Homo sapiens: one gene and its partners. The protein of the gene in region 3 purifies or fractionates together with the protein of the main gene of each other region. This does not show direct contact. Each region holds a gene or a part of one and is shown on either strand. Other genes may lie near its edges.

What was found.
Region 1: the proteins of FPR2 (region 3) and ALG10 purify together in Homo sapiens (affinity purification with mass spectrometry; 2 studies listed by BioGRID and IntAct, with this or other methods). This does not show direct contact.
Region 2: the proteins of FPR2 (region 3) and REEP5 purify together in Homo sapiens (co-immunoprecipitation; 3 studies listed by BioGRID and IntAct, with this or other methods). This does not show direct contact.

Annotation. Positions count from the first base shown.
Region 1 is NC_000012.12:34,017,536-34,025,495, forward strand, and holds the start of ALG10 (dol-P-Glc:Glc(2)Man(9)GlcNAc(2)-PP-Dol alpha-1,2-glucosyltransferase), read left to right. Parts: upstream 1-4,960; 5' UTR 4,961-5,064; coding exon 5,065-5,235; intron 5,236-5,241; exon of another isoform or gene 5,242-5,363; intron 5,364-6,426; coding exon 6,427-6,624; intron 6,625-7,960. UniProt on the Homo sapiens protein: Dol-P-Glc:Glc(2)Man(9)GlcNAc(2)-PP-Dol alpha-1,2-glucosyltransferase that operates in the biosynthetic pathway of dolichol-linked oligosaccharides, the glycan precursors employed in protein asparagine (N)-glycosylation.
Region 2 is NC_000005.10:112,884,228-112,891,227, forward strand, and holds part of REEP5 (receptor expression-enhancing protein 5), read right to left. Parts: intron 2,957-7,000; coding exon 2,788-2,956; intron 1-2,787. UniProt on the Homo sapiens protein: Plays an essential role in heart function and development by regulating the organization and function of the sarcoplasmic reticulum in cardiomyocytes.
Region 3 is NC_000019.10:51,763,879-51,771,522, forward strand, and holds the end of FPR2 (N-formyl peptide receptor 2), read left to right. Parts: intron 1-4,766; 5' UTR 4,767-4,780; coding exon 4,781-5,836; 3' UTR 5,837-6,653; downstream 6,654-7,644. UniProt on the Homo sapiens protein: Low affinity receptor for N-formyl-methionyl peptides, which are powerful neutrophil chemotactic factors. Binding of FMLP to the receptor causes activation of neutrophils.

The sequences.
Region 1 (7,960 bases), on a different chromosome or scaffold from region 3:
GTAATATTCTGAATGTATGCCGAACTTATAGCCAGTGCAGGGTACCTAATGCTCATAAGGATGCCCACTTGTTTTACTCTGCTTCTAAAGCCAAAAGGGAATTAACCAGAAACCCTCCTCAATATTTCACAAAACCTCCCTCTTTTCAGTAATAACAATTGTATCATAAATCTCACTCTAACGTCTGAAATTTTAAAATTAGTAAGATCATATTACTGCGTCTCTTAAACTGTGAAATTATTTAAGAATTAAAGTTAATTCAATGTCTTCTCTTCTAACTTTTTACTTTGGTTGATTTAATAGTACTGTAATTTCATCAGTATAATAGCCCAGTTCATTTAATAATCAATTTATGATTCTCTTTCTTTTCCTAGAATGTTTCTTATCTAACTGGCAGCAATAGCTGTAGGACTATGGTGTTTCAGCTGCTTATTTTAGCAAAAAGCAAAGTTCCCCTTCACATAGTCTTTTGAAAGAAAAGACATCTGTCTGAATATAAATATATGTAACTAAAAGCCATTAAATTGTAAGTATTTAAGTTCCTCTTCTTCAGCTGCTGAGGAGGAACATCGTCTATATGTTCATTGGCAATGAACTTTGTTTCTTGGTAGGGTGAAGCCTGGAGATGAAGAATCAGAGAAGCCAGGGGACAAAGCAGCATGAGTGATCAGAAAAGCAAGGGAAATGTAGAGGACAGCAGTATTCTCAAACTTTCAGGTCCATCAGGTCCACTTGGTAATCTAAGGGAATCATAATTGATTACAAAATGAATGTTAAAACACGTATTACTTGGCTCCCTCTGCTATCAGATTTGTTTTCCGGTAGGTCTAAGGCAAGACTTGATTATTTGCACTTCTAACAGGTTCCCAGGTGATACTAATGCTGTGGTACTTTAGGAACCACTGTTATAAAAAAATATTTAGGAAGTTTTGCTTTGGGTTGTATGGTATATCTTTCTAAATGACCAAGTGTATTAGTCCTTTTTCACACTGCTATAAAGAACTGCTGAAGACTGGGTAATTTATAAAGGAAAGAGGTTTAACTGACTCACAGTTCAGCATGGCTGGGGAGGCCTAGGAAACTTACAATCATGGCGGAAGGCGAAGGGGAAGCAAGGCACCTTCTTTACAAGATGGCAGGAAGGAGAATGAATGCAGGAGGAACTATCAAACACTTACAATACCATCAGATGAGAACGCACTCAGTATCATGACAACAGCACCGGGGAAACTGCCCCAAGGATTCAATTACCTCCATCTGGTCTCTCTGTTGACACATGGGGATCATGGAGATTATGGGGATTATAATTCAAGGTGAGATTTTGGGTGGGGACATAGCCAAACCATATCACCAACCATTCTCTTTGTCTGATACTACAGAATTTACCTGGCCTGAGACTTTCAAGGGTAAAACTGGAAAGTCTGCCACAAACCAGAAAGATTTGTTCTATGAAAGTTATCAGAATCAAAATGGGGCCACTTGCATAAAAACCCTGAAAAATGGAGCTAAGGAAGACCAGAAAGGGAGGGTTTATATGCGTGTATGCCTGACAACAGGAACTACGACAAAAGACTGCACAAACCACAACTTTGCACAAAGGCCACCACAATCTCACAAAAAATTACTTCTGTGAGGACATTTGCCCAGCAACTGCCTGTCCAACCTCAAACTGGTGCCACCCTTTCTACCAGTCCTTGTAACCAAGGATAATTGTCTCAAAGCAATTTATGTAACCCTCTTCATTTTTCTTTTAAAATCCCTTGTCTTCTTTTACCTCCCTATGTTCATTGTATTCTAACTGTAATGCTCAATCCCAAATAAATATTATTGTTTTTTAGAAGGGTCTCTCCGTGTGTGTGTTACTTAGGTTTAACCAGTCCCCTATACAATGTCTTCAAGACATTTTCAGTAGAGCTAAAATACTTGCTAATGCTTTTGTACTAAAATGTGTGTGTTTTTTTTAATTGATTCATTAATTTTAAAATATAGATTTTAAATTGATATGTTAAGATTGACCTCAAGGGTATAGTTGCATTTTAGAGCTTATCATCTGTGATTTTTGGCCCAGGGTGCAGTACTCTGCTGTAGCTAGAACGAATTGTCACCTAGAAAGGAGTAAACCGTCACTCTGATTAGCAAGTGGCCAATGTTTTCATTCAGCAACAAGTGAAAAGGGGTGCAATAAGAGGCAGGGTGTTTCTTGGACTAATACTTCAAAGTTATTACAGTTACAGCCTTTGGGGAAATTCACTGTTCAGATATGGCTGTTTCAAACAGTTAAGTATATGCAATGTTATGCGAGTTCATCAAATTAGGAATGTCTTAATTGATCAAAGTAAGCTAGGTTATACAGGAGAAATAAAGTCAAAATCTTAATGGCTTATAAACAAAAAAGATTTATTTCTTGCTAAAACAACCTATCCTTAGAACCCCAACAGAAATTGCCCATTTTTCTGCCATAACTTACTTATCATAATTCAAGTAGCACAAATAAATAGTTGATGTGCAATGACAATGGGATTGCTCATCCTAATGACTCTTTTTCACAAACATCTATGGAAAATGGCAGTTGGAATTCTGAATGGAAAATGTAAGTTGAAATTAATGCTGATCTAGTTTTAAATGATAGGTCTAATAATATGTAATCTATTTCATTAAAACCCCAGAGGTAGCTATTTTAATAGGTCTTGATTTAGGAGCAGAGCTTTGGAAAGCATTTCAAGATTATCAAAGATGTTGTAATCTAAGAGTAGAAAAGTGACAACAGCTTCATCGATTTGCAGATAGTAAAAATAACTAACAAACGAGTGAAGTACTCTACAAAGAACTCTACTGGGCCCATGGAGCTTCTTAGCATTCTCAGGTAATATGTTTTACATCAATCGTTTCCAAATATGAAGATTATTATTCAGTGATTTGAGATGGCTCTCTACAATCTAGTTTTTCACAATGTTCCCCCAGCAGATTTTGATGTAATTAGTCTGTAACATGAACATTTTTTTAAAAGATGAAACTTGTATTTCAACTTGGTGTATGGAAACAGAGGAGAGTGGAATGTAAATGTAAAGTTATTGGGACTAGTGAAACATTCAGTTCAGTATACATTGTAGATTATTTTAACCTATAAGGCTATGAAGTTATTTTATTACTCTTGGTCTGATTTTCTAATTCCTACACTTGGTTCTGACACTAATTTTTTATGTAATTTTAGGTAAATCATTCATTTTTTTAAAACCAACTTCTTTTATAACATGAAGTCAAGTAGATTATTAATAAAGATCCCTACCCATTCTAGAACCCCATATTTCCTTGAAACTTTCCATTTTATGTAAAGGGATGTGTGCAGCATGTATAGGAGTCAAATGTTTAACATAAACTATTGGTGGCAATTGTTATGAAGAAAAATGGAGAGCATAAATGTCTAGTCTTGTTCTACTCCCTTTAAAAACGACCCACTATTTCTAGGGTGGGTCAGTAAGCTGCAGAGTATATATAACACGATTTAGCAGGTCAACAGGTCAGGAGCTAATTACTTGTAGATCACATCAACCTCTTGAAGACTGAATCATCTGGAGATGTGTTACAAGTGACTTAAACAGATAAGTACAGCATGGACTCAACAATAAAATGGGAGATAATGGTTAAAACAAAGCTAAGCATCACATCAGAGTAGGATCCTCACATGACTTTATTCCAGTAATGTAAATGTTCCCATCCCAGCCCTCATTCACCACTACTTCCTCTTATCATTGAGGAAACAGGCAGAGACAGAATGGAAAGGCAGTCAGCTTAATTTAAGAAACTTTCTTAAGTTTAGAAATACTGAATTAGTTTTAACCCAGAAAAAGAGCTCAATTGAGAACTCTGAGGTTTGCAACCTTAAATCCCGCCTAAATTCTGATATATTCCTGCCAAAGGCAACCTGATTGAGGTTACCTGAGAAATAGTTTTTCTACAAAACATGGCCAACCATGCTCAAGACAAAATTACAACACATAATTTATCTTCGGCATTCTTCAAATTATTTACCTCATCTCCTGCCCCCAGCACCTAATCCCAGAATACAGGAATTTGATGATGTCTACACAGCCTATAAAAGTCCACAAATTTAAGTGCCTACTGTGTGAAAGCCATTTTGGGGACTACAAACATAAAGGATGTATAATGCCACCCACTAAGATGTTCACGCTTATGATTTAGTAGGAAAAACAGAAGGCTGCCTTACAGATATTAACAACCAAATTTACAGGCACACCTAAAACATCCCGAATTCTAAAATATATATGTATTTTCCAAATCCTACAGGGTAATATGACTATGAAAGTGCACTAGGAATGTCAATTTAACTAAATCCTCTGAGAGCATCCACATTTTGAAAGAGTTCTCTTTTAACCTAAACAAACAAACGAACAAACACTCCTCTCACTGAAGTTCATTCGGCATTGACGGGTCTCTGGTTCTTCAAGTTTTCATCTAAAACTCTCAGTCTTTGCTATCACAACCAACGCACCCTTCCTACACTCCAAAGTTGATGGAATGAAATGTCTTGGAATTGAGGGTTTAATTAATTCGGATCACTGGAGAGAAATAACAGAAATAACGGGGGAAAAAATGTGTCCATTTTAGGGCTTGGAATTGGAAACGTGGGGAAACGTCGCCACCTTCTGGTAAGTGATGGAAGTGAGCAGGAAAAAAGATCCAAGCTAAGAAGCGGCTTTTTTTTTTTTTTTTTTTTTTTTTTTTTTCTAAGCAGCAAGCCACGCACCTCCCGCGCTGGCGAAATCCGAGACCCGCCCCTTCCGGAAGTTTTGACACTTTGTGCGCCCCGGGCAATGCGATTGAGAGGGTAATCATCCGGTCCGTTATCTAAACCCGTCACTCCGGGAAACAGCGACCCGATCTTTCCGGATCCGCGCTCTCCCAGCATCCTTTGCCTTCCGGTATGTGGCCCCGTCTGGCTAGTCCCGCCTAGCGCGCCCATTTCGAGCCCAAGTTTCCAGCTCGGGTTTCCAGGCTCAGAATTTTCCAGGAGTAGGTTCTTGGGCAGTGGCTGTGGGAGCTGGAATGGCGCAGCTGGAAGGTTACTATTTCTCGGCCGCCTTGAGCTGTACCTTTTTAGTATCCTGCCTCCTCTTCTCCGCCTTCAGCCGGGCGTTGCGAGAGCCCTACATGGACGAGATCTTCCACCTGCCTCAGGCGCAGCGCTACTGTGAGGGCCATTTCTCCCTTTCCCAGGTGGGGTCCCCAACCTGTCCCCACCCCAGGAGAGGCCTGAGAGGTCCCAGCGTCCCCACGTCCTCCCATCCTTAGACTTCACTCGTCCTGTTCCACCCCCTCAAGCCTCAGAACATGAAAGAAACTGGGTATAGTCTTTTGTTCCTGTCTCTGAGATCTGTGAAATATTTATTAAATGAATGAATAAACAGCAGATCTGTCCTCCAGGAAGGAGTGATCTGGGAGAATACTCAACGGGGAACTGAGCCCTCCTCTTGGCAGCTGACGATATCGATCCCACTTTGTCTTTCCTTGTTTTAGGATTAAAGGCATTCGGGTGCTCCTTGGAAATACCAGAAAACTTTCCTTTAGCTCACCTGTCAAGCACCTCACTGTGCATTTTAGGGGTGGGATAGGGTGGACTGGAGGGATCTTCAGCTACCAAAAAGTGACAATTTATAATCACAAATTCCTTCCCTGGGTATTTTTAGTGAACTGTTAACTGGATAAACTGGCAACCAGTCAAGTCACATCATTTTTGAGTATATATTTGACTGTGCAAGTATGTACATATAAATATCAAAATAAGCATCCCCTGCTTCTCTGGTGACACAATATAGGGTACTGGCTAGAAATATAAAGTCTGTTTTAGAGAAAGATCTGATCTTAAATCTTGGTGCTGTGATTTACTAGTTTTGTGATCTTGGAGATGTTCTGAGTTTCAGAAATTCAGGTTACTCATCTGCAAAATGACAATAATCTTTACTATAGGGCATATTGTAACGTTAATACAGAGGGTTTGGCAACAATTTCTGTCTCAGTTTATGTTAGCTGTCATCATGGAGCCTGTGGTCCAAATGTTTTCCTAAACTTAAGAGTCCCAAACAATGTTTCCATGCTTTTAAAAACTGGAACATTTGCAGTTTATTTATCAAAATAAAGGCTTTTAAAGAACATTTCTTGGAAAATAGAAATAGATTTTAAGTTGTTGTTGTTTATTGGTTGCTGCTACCTGAACCATCACTAAGCTGGTCCGGGGGCAAAAAATAAGAAAAACGAATCCTGTTCTGCCAAGGACTTACTTAATCTTGTCATAGAATAACTTCTCAAAATTTCTGATTGTTGCTGGAGATGAGACTTGGGCTTGACATATTTGTGCCTGTCTTGTTCCTATTACCTCTTGCTTTTACTTCATTTTCTTTCATTTTAAAGTGGGATCCCATGATTACTACATTACCTGGCTTGTACCTGGTGTCAATTGGAGTGATCAAACCTGCCATTTGGATCTTTGGATGGTCTGAACATGTTGTCTGCTCCATTGGGATGCTCAGATTTGTTAATCTTCTCTTCAGTGTTGGCAACTTCTATTTACTATATTTGCTTTTCTGCAAGGTACAACCCAGAAACAAGGTATGTTTCAAAATACTTAATTACAAGTTTATGTGTAGTCAGGTCCACAATTACAATGAATTAGTTTTATGAGATTTGGTGAAAAATGTCTTTAACACTTTGTAACTTTGTATTTTTGTATATTATGTAAAGGTAAATTTAAATCCTCCATCTCCATTTTAGAATAAATTCGTATTTAAATACTTGAATAACTTATTTGTAAAATCTGAAGTAAATATTTGTTAAGTGAGTCAAACCAGTTCAATAAATACTTACTGAACTTATTCCATGTGCTAGGGACTGGGACTACAGAGATAAATGAGGCAGTCTTTTTCTTGTAAAACGTATATATTCATTAGGGAAAACAGACTTTACCTGAGGACTTTTGATGTGATAACAGTGCAGGCCCTGGAGGTAGATTGCCTGGGTTAGAATTCTCTCCCTGCCACTTAACCAGTTTTGTTACCATGGACAGGTTAACCCTTAGTGGCTCCATGTCTTCATGTATTAAATAAGAATAACAATAGAATCTGCCTTATAGAACTGTTATAAAGGAACAAAGAAACTTAATAAATGGAAGATGCTTCGAACAGTGCCAGAGATATAGTAAGGGTTCAGTAAATATTAACTCTAATAATTATTTTTAACCTTAAGAGATGATTTCAGTAGTGTCAGTTATGATAGAGTGGTAAACATAAGATGCTATGAGGATACAGAGAAGGAGCAGGGGAACACTTACTGCTTTTCTGGGAGGGAGGGGAGTATGTGGCATTTGGTAAGTCCTCACAGAGAAGATGGTACCAGAGCTGAGTCTTGATGAACGGATAGGGCTGTGTAGGGTGGGGAATTAATCCTGGGGAGACAAACAACATAAGAAAAGGAAGAAAGGCATTGAACAACGAGTTGCAGGGAATTGGTCTTGGAATTACAGGATTAAAAAGTAGAGGGATGTAAGGCTAGAGAAGTAGGTCATGAATGCCCTTATGTGTCACAGAGAGGACTTTGAACTTTAGCATGTAATGTAAAGACCTTAATTTTAATCAAGGAAATGGCATGGTCTGATTTGGTGATTTAGATTAAGTGGAGTATACAATTCAAGAACATAAGAACACTTTCAAATTCTGAAACAGCATGTCAGAAAGGCCAAAAGAAGATATATAACTTTAGACAGGCTCACTTTTCAGAAAAATACCTGTTATTTCATCATGAAAATTTCATCTTGAAAAAGTAAGTCTGGGTATGGTAGTATACCATATGCATGTTTATATTCTCCCTTGTGTAGAGTTATGAAGGATTTCCTTAAAGGAAAGTGGTTCATTATGGCTAAGTGAATCCTTACTGAAGGCACTAAAACATA
Region 2 (7,000 bases), on a different chromosome or scaffold from region 3:
ATGTGATACGTCTTCCAGCCTCCATTCGCAACTTCTTCCACCTCATCTCCTCCTGCACCCCTCTAGATCACTTCTTTTGTTGCTCCCACCTCCGGACTTCTGTATATGCAGCTCATTCTAAAGTATGATTCCCCATGGTTCCTTCTTTTACCATTTTCTATTTTTTTTTTTTTTTAGGGGGATAGGGTTTTGCTTTGTAACCCAGGCTAGAGTGGCACAGCTCACTTGCAGCCTTGATTACCTGGGCCCAAGTGATCCTCCTGCCTCAGCCTCCTGAGTAGCTGGCACCACAGGCTTGCATCACAACGTCCGGCTAATTTTTAAATTTTTGTAGAGAGCGGGTCTCCATAGGAGACCCTGTCACAAACAAGCTGGTCTCAAACTTCTGGCCTCAAGTGATCTCCTGCCTTAGCCTCCCAAAATGTTGGGATTACAGGCTGAGTCACTGTTCCTGATTCCTTTACTACTATTGAGTCTGATTCAGTAGAGCCTTCTGGTATAGATTTCCTAAACGTCTCTATTTAAAATCATAACCATCCCTCCAGTCCTTGGCCCCCCCCCATCTTTCTACTTGCTTTATTTTTTCCCTATATTATATGGTAAATATACTATCTAATTTTCAATTTTACTGCCTATCTCTCAACTAGACTGTAAGCTTCATGAATTCAAGGAGTATGGTCTCTTCGGTATGCTGGTTCACTGCCAGTGTTATGAACATGCTTGGCACATATTAAACACCTCAATAAATAAATATTTATTGAGTGAATTAATCAGAGCTGAGAGTGGACATTCTTTTGTACCCATAACAAAAACTGAACAGCATACTGAACCGATCAATCTGAACTGAATCAGGCTGGCCGTCAGGGCCTCCAAAGTACTGCTTCTGTCTGGTCAGCCTGCTGCTACAGCCTTGGCCAGCTAGGCCCTGCTGCTCATGGTGCCAGCCCAGAGAGGAGCCAGCCAGGAGATGGTGAGTGCTGTGGGGGTGGGGAGCCCCAAGGAGAAGGCACTGAGGAGGAAAAACAGGATTAGCAGCTCAAACTGCCAGAGACAGAAAGCAAGCTCAAATGAGTGACCTGAAACAGCAAGTGGTAGATTTAGAACAGAACCAAAAACTTTTGCTAGAAAATCAGTTTTTACAAGAGAAAATGCATGGACTCGTAGTTGAGAACCATGAGTGAAGACAGCACTTGGGGATGGATGCTCTGGTTACTGAAGAGGAGGCGAAAGCCAAGATAATTCCATCTATTTGATGCTTGACATCCCTAACTAGGCAGATGAGGGTAGAAGTTAGTTGTGGTGGGGTTGGAAGTAAACATCAACTACCTTCCCAGTATGATATCCTGTTGGGCATTCTGGACAACTTAGACCCACTAGTGTTCTTCAAATGTCCTTCCCCAGGGTCTGCCAGCCTGGAGCAGCTCCCAGAGGTCTACTCAGAAGGACCCAATTCCTAACCAGCCTCCCTTTCTCTGTCAGTGGGGACATTATCAGCCAAGCTTGAAGCTATTAATGAACTAATTAATTTTGACTACATATATGCCAAGCCCGTAGTCTGAGACAGAGAGCCAAGCTAATGCGGTAGTGAAAATCAAGGAAGCACCTCTCAGCCTTTTAGAGAATGATCACCCAGAATTCGTGGTCTCAGTGAAGGAAGACTTTGTGGAAGATGACTTCATTCCAGACCTGGGTATCTCCAATCTACTTCCATCCAGCCACTGCCCGAAGCCATCTTCCTGTCTACTGGATGTTTACAGTGACTGTGGGTATGAGGGCTCCCCTTTCCCCTTCAGCGACATGGCCTCTCCACTTGGTGCAAACCATTCTAAGGAGGAGACTGGCCAATGAACTCTTTCACCAGCTGGTTAGTGTCTAAGGAGTGATCCAATACTGTTGCTCTTTTCCTTGACTATTACACTGCCTGGAGGATAGCAGAGAAGCCTGCCTGCGCTTCATTCAAAACGTCACAGAGTGTACAGTCCTAGAGAATTCCCCTATTTACCTGTTTAAACGTCATAGATAACCCCAAGTATTGTCTTTTGGCATCCAGCAGTCCAAGGTATTCGATATGTTACAATTCAGAACTATAGGTTTTGAGGTTGTACTTTTTCTAAAGAGTGGTAGTTTGCCCTAAATATTTATTATGTGAGGGTGATTAGACAAGTGTCTTAGAGTAGACATGGAATTCATGAATGGCTCTTTATCATTTCTCCTCCCGCTTTTTGGCATCCCAGGCTTGTCTCTAGTTTTAGGTCCTTTAGTTTTCTTCTGCAAGTGGAGAGAACACATACCTGAGGGGGCTCTTTTCCCCTCATGTACAGTTCAAGTAAAGATCAAGAATTTTTTGTAAAATTATAGAAATTTACTACGTAAATGCTTGATGGAATTTTTCCTGCTAGTATAGCTTTTGAAAGGTGCTTTCTCCATTTATTTAAAACTACCTATGTAATTAAGTATAATACAAAAAAATTAAATAAACAATTAGAAGAGATGGACTTGCATATCAATATAGATGATTCTCTAAAATCGCTGCCTACCAAGGAAAGTCATTTTTCCTAATGTTCTGACTGAAGGCTACATTAAATGTGGCATGGAGGAAGAGTCTTGGGAAAAGTCGAGAACTGTAAGTGTTCTCAATAGGCAAAGACTTTGTAAAGAAATCCCAGAGTAATGTTGGCATTTGGCTGAGGGGTGGTGATAAGACAAGAAGGCCAGGAAGCCTGTTATTTGAGCCCAGTGTGTCACATCTCCTCTCACATGTGGGGCCATCTTGTTCCTGAGTCTTACCTTCTTTAGTGATGGCATCTGCAGTCTCTTTGGCCTTGTCTTTAAGGTCCTTGACCACACTGTCCATCTGGGACTCGTGCTTCAGGAAGAAAGGACGGATGATGCGCTTGTAGAGCAGTTCAGCCCCATTAGAAGGGCTCGGGGCCATGCACCACAACAGGAAGCCACACTGCACAGAAAAAGAGCCAGCATGGGTAACAGGAGGGTGGAGGGGGCACATTCTGAGAATACACACTGTCTTTCACTACTCTGGGGATGGGAGATGCCTCTGTTATTTTCCCCAAAGGCATTACCAGTGTTTTCTGCAGGTTAAAGGTGGGCTTTCTTTAGATGGAAAAAACATGATGAGTAATGAGCTGGTAAGGAAAAGCTGAGACTAAAAAACAAAAGGTAAAACACACCAGGTCCAGGAGCTTAACTATCTTCCTAACTTGGACCACGTTTTAGTATATAGCTGTAAGAGGCTTTTATTAATCATAACTCTTAGAAATCAATTTAAGAAAATATAGTACTTATCTGCATGTATAAAGCCCTGTACAGATAAGCCTAATATCTAGGAGGCCTGTGCTTGGTAGGCTTATCTTGGTAAGTTTATCACATTTATTCATCCTATTATGGAAAAAATACCTTGTCCATTCCTGAATTCTTCCTTTGGTGGACCTCAGTTTTGGGTAGATCTTAGCCTTCAAGGAATCTTTACAGTTGTTCTTCATCTTTCATCTTGAATGTAGTTATTATTCCTAACTCCTTCTTTACAGCTCTACTTTGCCATTGAGATTTTTTTTTAATTGACAAGAATTCTGCCCTAATTACTTAAATAAGGATTTTCACACTATGTCCAAAAAATTTTTACTGTTGATTCAAATAATAAATACCAACTCGTCACTTCAAGTCATCCATGCAATTTACTCCTTTTTAAGATAAAAAGAAAAGCAGAAGGAAAAGGAATATTCAGAGTAATCTGCCCATTTCCCTAGAAAGTTTAATAAACAATATACTGAGTTATTTTAGTTTAAAAGATTCTAACCACATTGTATTCCACACAGCCTAGGTGACTCTACAAAAAAACAGAAGTCACTTACAGAGATTCCAAATCAGTATTTTTTACAACTTCTCCTTAGTGTAAAAACATCTTAATTTCTCATGCTTTAAATTTAAGTCTTAGTCCTTATGATTCCAAACCAAGGGATGTACTCATAATCAACAAGCTATGATGGTTTTCTAAGACAGTCTTTCAGGTGTTTTAGAGATACAAAGCTGATAAAGGGCTAACACTAATGACAAGAGTTTCAGTTTAAAATGCACAAATAGCTCACTCCATCAGCACCATGTTGGCTCTGAGAAATTTATACTAGACTTTGAACTTGTATAACACTCAAAATAAAAAACAAAACCCAAGTTCTCAACAATATCTCCAGATTATTCTTTCTGAGAGTCTTGCTCTGTCACCCAGGCTGGAGTGCAGTGGCATGAACATGGCTTACTGCAGCCTTGAACTCCTGGGTTCAAACAATCTTCCCACAGCCTCCCAAGTAGCTGGGAATGACTGCAGGCATGAACCACCAGGCCTGGCTAATTTTTTATAACTTTTTTTTGTAGAGACAAGTGTCACAATGTTGTCCAGACTCCCCTTATCTCAACTACAGTAAAAAGTAACTCTTGAAATGTAACCTTTGTGAATTAAAATTTGTTACACATGCACAAGAGTTTTTAAGACAGAGACTTGCTAGGCATGGTGGCATGCACCTGTAGTCCCAGTGACTTGGGAGGCCAAGGTGCAAGGATTGCTTGGGCCCAGGAGTTGGAGACTGACATGGTTTAGCTGTGTCCCCACCCAAATCTCATCTTGAACTGTAGCTCCCATAATTCTCATGTGTTGTGGAAAGGACAGGGTGAGAGATAACTGAATCATGGGGGTGGTTTCCTGCCATACTGTTCTCATGGTAGTGAATAAGTCTCACGAGATGTGATAGTTTTATAAGGAGTTTCCCCTTTCGCTTGGGCTCTCATTCTTTCTTGCCTGCCGCCACCATGTAAGACATCCCTTTGCTTTTCCTTCATCTTCCACCATGATTGTGAGGTCTCCACAACCATGTGGAACTGTGAGTCAATTAAACCTCTTTCCTTTATAAATTGCCCAGTCTCGGCTATGTCTTTATTAGCAGCATGAGAACAGACAAATGCAGAGACCATCCTGGGCAACAGAGCAAGAGCTCATCTCAAAAACAAAACAAAACCCAGACACTATAGGACTAAATTTTTTATAAAACCCCAAAACTATAGCTGTATGCTTAAGAAACATACCTACAACAAAACCAAATAGGAACACTGAAAATAAAGTTATGGGAAAGATATATCAGACAAACACCAACTCCCAAAATAGCTCATTAGCAATATTAATACATACAAATTACTTAAGGCAAAATAAGTAAATAGGATGATAAAGAAGGAAAGCAATTCACCAAGAATATTAAAATTCCTGAACTTGTATATACCTTTGAAATACGTAAATTATATCTAACTTTGCATATGTTTGCAATAGAATTATTTTTATAATTATATATTTATATATAGCTATAGATAGCTTTCAAATATGGCTTTGAAATATTTAAATGTAAGTCAGAATTATATAGACAAATGGACAAAATCTGCAATCATAGATTTTAACATTTCCATCAGAAATTGATATACTAGCCAGGCTTACACCTGTAATCCCAGCACTTTGGGAGGCTGAGGTTGGAGGATCACATGAGCCCAAGAGTTTTGAGACTAGCCTGTGTAACATAGGGAGACCACATCTCTAGGAAAAAAAAAATTTTTTTTTTTTTTTGAGACTGATTCTTGCTCTCTTACCCAGGCTGGAGTGCTGTGGCACAATATCAGCTCACTGCAACCTCCGCCTCCCGGATTCAAGCGATTCTCCTGTCTCAGCCTCCCAAGTAGCTGGGACTGCAGGCAAACACCACCATGCCCAGCTAATTTTTGTATTTTTAGTAGAGACGGGGTTTCACCATGTTGGCCAGGCTGGTCTTGAACTCCTGACCTCAAATGATCCACCCCCATCGGCCTCCCAAAGTGCTGGGATTACAGGCGTGAGCCACCGCACCCGGCCACAAAAAATAAATTTAAAATTAGCCAGGCTTGGTGATGTATGCCTGTGGTCCTCCTGGGAGGTTGAGGTGGGAGGGTGGCTTGACCTTGGGAGGTCGAGACTGCAGTGAGCTGTGATACCATCACTGCAATCCAGGCTTGGTGAGACAGCAAGACCCTGTCTCAAAAAGACAAAAAAAAGTTGATATATAAAACAACCTAGAAATTAGTAAGAATACAGAATAAAGAACACAAAATTTAAGTCTTTTTTTTTTTTTAAATAAAAAAGGGTTTCACTTTGTCACCCAGGCAGGAGTGCAGTGGCACAAATACAAAACACTATAGCCTCAACTTCCTGGGCTCAAGTGATTCTCCCGCCTCAGCCCCCCAGGTAGCTGAAGACCACAGGCATGCAGGCACGCACCATCACGTCTGGCTAATTTTTGTACTTTTTGTAGAGATGGGGTTTCGCCATGTTGGCCGGGCTGGTCTCGAACTCCTGACCTCAAGTGATCCACCCATCTCAGCCTCCTAAAGTGCTGGGATTACAGGTGTGAGCCACTGCACCTGGCCTAAAATCTCACTCTAAAGATATATACAGATCTCTCAACCCAACAAAGAGGGATTCAAAGAGTTAATATAGTATATAGAGAGTAACAGGATGGACTCAAAGAAACTAACTTCCAATCCTGGTTCTGCCATTTACTAGCTAAGCAAACCTTATACAAGTTACTTAATCACTTAAGTCTGGTTTTTCCTCTATAAAATAGGTATTAATTGAAAATTTTAAAATTTACCCCTATAATTTTGTAAGAAAATAAAATTACTAAGCATAGCAAGGACTTTCTCTGACCCAAGAATACTGTGTTTTCTAACAACATCTATGAAACATTACTAACAGGAGAACATGTTAGCTTTCAGTAGGGGAAAGCAAATCCTAGAACCAAAAATATTTAAGCAAATATTTATTTTTATTTTTTATTTTTGAGACAGAGTCTCACTCTGTCACCCAGGCTGGAGTGTAGTGGCACAGTCTTGGCTCACTGCAACCTCTGCCTCCTGGGTTCAAGCAGTTCTCCTGCCTCAGCCTCCCAAGTAGCTGGGATTACAGGCACGTGCTACC
Region 3 (7,644 bases):
TTCCCAAGTAGCTGGGATTGCAAGCGCGTGCCATCACGTCCAGCTAATTTTTGTATTTTTAGTAGAGATGAGGTTTCACCATGTTGGCCAGTCTGGTCTCAAACTCCTGGCCTCAAGTGATCCACTTGCCTCAGCTTCCCTAAATGTTGGGATTACAGGTGTGAGCCACGGCACCTGGCCAAGGATGGTTTCTTTTTAAAGGGAGGGGATATGATTTATGTAATGTTTATGTAATAGTGAGAATGATCTAGTAGAAATAAAATCTTGAGGGTTTGTTTTTGGCAGAAAATGGAAGGACAAATGCAGGGGGAAAGTTTGTGGGAAGATGAGAGGGCATCCTGGGCCAATGCAGGGAGGGAAATTATTGGAAAGAACAAGAAGTCTTTATTCACAGTGACAGAGGCAGGTAGACTGAGGGTCAGGGGAGGACCGGCTGAAAATTTCACATCTAGTTATTACCATTTTCTCATTATAATGTCAGTCAAGGGCATCTGCTGAGAGTGGGAAAAACAGAGTAAATGAGGTACTTTTTGGAGAAAGCAGGACTGAAATAATTAAGGTGTGGGATAGCGAGTGCGCTGGAGAAGTAGAGTAACCTAATGAGGAACTGCTGAGTTTTCATTTGAAATCTGTGGTCATAAATTCAATTGCAACCCTCGATAATTGTGAAAGTCACTTCCGCTCTCTGAGCCGTACTTTCCTACCTGTTACACAAGGACAGCACTTGTCCCAAAGCAAGGGTATTGTAATCAGAGATGATAAAATATATAGTGACTGGCACATATTAAGGACTCACCAAATAGCAGACCTCATAATCAGTACAGGTATCATCTGTGGTTCGCAGTTCTCCTCCTTACATTACAACTAGGGTGGACCCAAAACTTTGCAATTTTTGCCTTGTTAATTTGTCCTCACCTGTCATTGCACAATCATCCTTCCTTGTTGCATCAACATTTTTTTTTTTCTGAGACAGAGTCTCGCTCTTTCACCCAGGCTGGAGTGCTGTGGCACGATCTTGGCTCACTGCAACCTCTGCCTCCCAGACTCAAGTGATTCTCCTGCCTCAGCCTCCCAAGTAACTGGGATTACAGGCACCCACCACCATGCCCAGCTAATTTTTGTATTTTTAGTAGAGACAGGGTTTCACCATGTTGGCCAGGCTGGTTTCAAATTCCTGGCCTCAAGTGATCCACCTGTCTTGGCCTCCCAAAGTGCTAGGATTACAGGCGTGAGCCACTGCGCCCAGCCTGTATCAACATTTTAAAATGAATTTGAAATTATGGATAGATCATGTCTTCTAAGTGTCTTGTAGAATGTTTGGAGTGTGGATAGAGAAAATCTGAGTCTGTTGAGGAACTATGGGGTGGAAAAGGGTTAACAGCACAATTCTGTTGTAATCAATCTGGCTGAGCTCCAATTCTGTCTCTACTCTTTCTACCTGGTAACGTTGAACAATTAACGCAGCCCATCTAAGTCTTAACTTCCTCATCTGTACAATGGTTATACTAATTATCAGGCTGCTGCAAAAGTACTTGTGGTTTTTGATATTATTTTCAATGGCAAAAACAGCGTTACTTTTGCACCAACCTAATATCACTAAGATTAATCAATATTCACTGTGTCTCAGGAGTGCTCAGTGTTCACACATATTAACACAGCCCATCCACAGATCCTGTGAGAGGCGTTGATAGGGTTAAAGGAAAAGCTCTTGGTGTGTGGGTAATGTTCATAAGTAGAAACAACTATTGCTATGAGCATCGTTCTTGTCCTGACCTTGAACTTCATAATGGATTGAGCCCCACGACACAGCACACAGCCTGGTGAGGGCCAAGAGTTCCCATTTGTCATAGATATACTCAGTCTAGCCTAAAAGATTTCCACATCTATTCTCACTTAATCCTCACCTGAAAGTTAGACTTCACCATAAAATTGTCCTCGTTCTGCAGAGCAGAAAACTGAGGCTCAAAGAGATATCACTGACTAAAAACTCATAGTGAGGAGACATCACAGATGAGATTAGAAGAGAGATGTAGCTGACTTCAGAGCCCAGTATATATATATATTTTAGACAGAGTCTCGCTCTGTCCCCCAGGCTGGAGTGCAGTGGCACGGCTCACTGCAACCTCCGCCTCCCGGGTTCAAGCGATTCTCCTGCCTCAGCCTCCCGAGTAGCTGGGACTGCAAGTGCATGCCACCAGGCCCGGCTAATTTTTTGTATTTTCGGTAGAGACGGGGCTTCACCGTATTGCCCAGGGTGGTCTGGAACTCCTGACCTCAGGCAATCCACCCCCCTTGGCCTCCCAAAGTGTTGGGATTACAGGCGTGAGCCACCGTATCTGGCTGAGCCCAGTATTCTTTGTAACAGTGACTCTCAATTGGGGGTGACTTTGCCTCCGAGGGGACCTTTGACAATGTTTATGGAACCTGTTGATTGTCATTTCTGGAGAAGGAGTTGCTACTGGTGTCTGTGGATAGAGGCCAGGGGGGCTGCTCAACATCCTACTGTGTCCAGAACAGTCTGCCACAACGAAGAATTACCCAGACCCAGATGTCAAAGGTGCCAAGGTTGAGAAACCCTGAGCTACATTAAATAACGTCCCATGGAATACCTCAGTGAAACTCACTGGTAATAGCAGGAAGAAAAGGAGGAAATAAGGAAAAGGAAGAAGGCTAAAAATCACCAGACTGAGGCATAGCCCTATCCTAGTAATCTTGGGGGAATCCCTTTCAAAGGCAGGACTTCCGTATGCAAAGGCAGTGGCTCTGGAGTTGTTCATCTCGGTTTCCGTATCTTGCTGCCTCCACTGACTGGCTGGGCATGATGTTGAAAAAAACTACAGAAGTCCCCGGGCCATGAATTCCCCCAGATGTGATGGCTGTTTCCCAATGTTATTATGAGCATTAGATGTGAACAAGTGCTATGGAATTGCTATTTCTCTTAAAGATGCTGAATAGCCCAGTCTGAGATGATTCTCAAATTCTCATGGCCATAGCAAATCATCCTGGCTTTTACACATACAGATTCTAGAATGAGATTTATGGATATAATTGTTTTTCATTTTTATTATAAGTTCAGGGGTATATGTGCAGGTTTGTTATACAGGTAAACTTGTATCCTGGTGTTTTCTTGTACAGATTATTTCATCACTGAGATATTAAGCCTAATACCCACTACTTATTTTTCCTGATCCTGTCCCTCCCCTCACCCTCCACCTTCCGGTAGGCCCCAGTGTTCCCCTCTTTGTGTCCATGTGTTCTCATCATTTACCTCCCATTTGTAAATGAGAACATGTGGTATTTGGTTTTCTGTTCCTGCATTAGTTTGCTAAGGATAATGAATACAATTTTAACAGGCAGCCTGGATGTTTCTGATAAAGTCCACAGACCACGGCATAAGAAAATGTGCTCAGGTGACGTGGGACTTTGTGTTGAACTGGATACAAATATTACAGATGTGATCCGGACCAGAGGCAGGGACTACATGTTTTGGGTTTTTGTTCTTAAAAGAAAAAAACAAAAACAAAAAAACTTGATCTGAGAAGCTCTGAAGGGTCATATTCTTACAATGTTATTGTCCACAATTTAGTCACGTGTCCACTACCAAAGCAATCCCTTGCAAAGTAAAAGGGATTCTGGTTAGTGCTAATTAGACTAGTCAGGATTTACTCCCAACATGGAGAAAAGACACCTTCTCTGCAGGGTGAGTAACTAAACACAATTGTGGTTTTTCAAGCAGAGAAGAATGGGGAACCGTTGCTGGGTGGGCAACCAGCAATATCTGTCAAGCGTAAGGGTTTAGAAGTCAGACCATGCCAAACTGAAGTCCTGAATCTATTATCTACTACCTAAGTGACCTTCAACACATTTCACAATTGCCCTGAGCTTTCATTTATTCTAATGAAAACTAGAAGTAATGAATATTACATAGCTATTACATAGGCCAAACCGGATCCCATATGTAGTAATTAACACAATGCATAGTCTCTAATAAGAACTTCACAAGTATTAATACAACTTATTATTCTTATAGTCTTTATCCCACAGACACCAAAGCTATACAAATCGGCACTGATTATTTGCATTCCAAACAGAGAAGAGCTCCACATCAAGCAGGGACAGGGAAAAGCAGAGGGTAGAAAGCAGAGATGGAACTCTCTTTGCTGACTTCCTCTAGTGCAGAATCCTCAGGATATAACATACTACTACATGTTACCAGTGACTCCTCAAAATTCTCTTCAACAATAACCTCAAGCCAAACCCTCAAACTTTATCTTGAGTACTAGCCAAGCAATAGGTCAAGGGTTCTCACAGTTTGAGGGACAGGAGTTGGGAGACTGGAAGAACCTGGGGCTGAAAGAGATTGCAGAGCTTGCCAGCATGTTTGCATTGAATGGTGGGAGACACAGATGTGAGCCTTCTGATTCTGAGTCATGTGCCTTCCTCACAATGCTGAGGCTGCCTATGCTCAATTTTCCATTGTCCATACAACATAAGTTCAGTATGAGCCTTGTAATCCTCTTGGTGAAGTGATCAGCCCGATAAGCGAAATGCATATTGATAATGATGGGAATATGGAGGACTATCCCTTCCCAAAGGAGCATCCAAGAGAATGCCAATTCTATAGCACCGTTGTCAACAAGGCTTGGTAGATAGAGTGGGTCTCCTGGTAGGAGTGGGAGCTTTAGTGGAAGTTGATGTGAGCTATAAATACAGATGCTGTAAGATGGTTCCACAGCTGAGAAATGGCCATTGTTGGAATGTTTCAGGTGCTGCTGGCAAGATGGAAACCAACTTCTCCACTCCTCTGAATGAATATGAAGAAGTGTCCTATGAGTCTGCTGGCTACACTGTTCTGCGGATCCTCCCATTGGTGGTGCTTGGGGTCACCTTTGTCCTCGGGGTCCTGGGCAATGGGCTTGTGATCTGGGTGGCTGGATTCCGGATGACACGCACAGTCACCACCATCTGTTACCTGAACCTGGCCCTGGCTGACTTTTCTTTCACGGCCACATTACCATTCCTCATTGTCTCCATGGCCATGGGAGAAAAATGGCCTTTTGGCTGGTTCCTGTGTAAGTTAATTCACATCGTGGTGGACATCAACCTCTTTGGAAGTGTCTTCTTGATTGGTTTCATTGCACTGGACCGCTGCATTTGTGTCCTGCATCCAGTCTGGGCCCAGAACCACCGCACTGTGAGTCTGGCCATGAAGGTGATCGTCGGACCTTGGATTCTTGCTCTAGTCCTTACCTTGCCAGTTTTCCTCTTTTTGACTACAGTAACTATTCCAAATGGGGACACATACTGTACTTTCAACTTTGCATCCTGGGGTGGCACCCCTGAGGAGAGGCTGAAGGTGGCCATTACCATGCTGACAGCCAGAGGGATTATCCGGTTTGTCATTGGCTTTAGCTTGCCGATGTCCATTGTTGCCATCTGCTATGGGCTCATTGCAGCCAAGATCCACAAAAAGGGCATGATTAAATCCAGCCGTCCCTTACGGGTCCTCACTGCTGTGGTGGCTTCTTTCTTCATCTGTTGGTTTCCCTTTCAACTGGTTGCCCTTCTGGGCACCGTCTGGCTCAAAGAGATGTTGTTCTATGGCAAGTACAAAATCATTGACATCCTGGTTAACCCAACGAGCTCCCTGGCCTTCTTCAACAGCTGCCTCAACCCCATGCTTTACGTCTTTGTGGGCCAAGACTTCCGAGAGAGACTGATCCACTCCCTGCCCACCAGTCTGGAGAGGGCCCTGTCTGAGGACTCAGCCCCAACTAATGACACGGCTGCCAATTCTGCTTCACCTCCTGCAGAGACTGAGTTACAGGCAATGTGAGGATGGGGTCAGGGATATTTTGAGTTCTGTTCATCCTACCCTAATGCCAGTTCCAGCTTCATCTACCCTTGAGTCATATTGAGGCATTCAAGGATGCACAGCTCAAGTATTTATTCAGGAAAAATGCTTTTGTGTCCCTGATTTGGGGCTAAGAAATAGACAGTCAGGCTACTAAAATATTAGTGTTATTTTTTGTTTTTTGACTTCTGCCTATACCCTGGGGTAAGTGGAGTTGGGAAATACAAGAAGAGAAAGACCAGTGGGGATTTGTAAGACTTAGATGAGATAGCGCATAATAAGGGGAAGACTTTAAAGTATAAAGTAAAATGTTTGCTGTAGGTTTTTTATAGCTATTAAAAAAAATCAGATTATGGAAGTTTTCTTCTATTTTTAGTTTGCTAAGAGTTTTCTGTTTCTTTTTCTTACATCATGAGTGGACTTTGCATTTTATCAAATGCATTTTCTACATGTATTAAGATGGTCATATTATTCTTCTTCTTTTATGTAAATCATTATAAATAATGTTCATTAAGTTCTGAATGTTAAACTACTCTTGAATTCCTGGAATAAACCACACTTAGTCCTGATGTACTTTAAATATTTATATCTCACAGGAGTTGGTTAGAATTTCTGTGTTTATGTTTATATACTGTTATTTCACTTTTTCTACTATCCTTGCTAAGTTTTCATAGAAAATAAGGAACAAAGAGAAACTTGTAATGGTCTCTGAAAAGGAATTGAGAAGTAATTCCTCTGATTCTGTTTTCTGGTGTTATATCTTTATTAAATATTCAGAAAAATTCACCAGTGAAGCCAACTTGGTCTTGTGTTTTCTTTCTGGGAAGATTTTTAATAACAAGTTTGTTTTCTTTAACAGTGATTAGACTCTTCTGTTTTTTGGTTTTTTGTTTTTTCCTATCTGTCAGTTTTGGTAAACTGAATTTCAAGGAGTTTGGCCATTTCATTCAAACTGTCAAACTCATCGGCATAAAATAGTATAATAACTGTTTAAAAGTTATAAAACAGCATGAAACTTGGCTGGGTGCGGTGGCTCATGCCTGTAATCCAAGCACTTTGGGAGGCCAAGAAGGGTGGATCACCTGAGGTCAGGAGTTTGAGACCAGCCTGGCCAACATGGTAAAACCCCATCTCTACTTAAAATACAAAAATTAGCTGGGCATGGTGGTGCACACCTGTAATCCCAGCTACTTAGGAGGCTGAGGCAGGAGAATTGCTTGAACCCGGGAGGTGGAGGTTGCAGTGAGCCAAGACTGTGCCATTGCACTCCAGCCTAGGGGACAAGAGTGAGACTTTGTCTGAAAAAAAAAAAGTATGAAACTTGAAATGCTTTCTTTTATGTATTTATTAATTTCTGATTTTTGTTCTTCTTGTTGTTATTATCCTAGAGCACAGCCTTTGGAGATACAGTTTCTTTTAAACAACGAAAATGTAAGCTCTCTGAAGTCAGGGATTTTGGTCTGTATGGTTTGCTGATTGAACCCCATCCTCTATGTGTAAAATACTGTCTGATATGTAATAGACATTCATTAAATACTCATTGAATAAATGAATCAATAAACAATAGTATCACCTAGGTGTCAAGTGAGAAGTTTTAATGTCAAATCAAAATTATCTCCAACCCTTATTACATGAACCAGACCATGTCCAGTAAACACCCATCCTCAAGCACACAATATTTAGAAATACTCATGTGGCTTACTTTTTCATCAATTTCTGGTTTTGAGCTTCTGCTTTAAGGAAAGTACCATGGCTAACTGTTGCCTCACGCCTTTGTTTTGAAATAAATC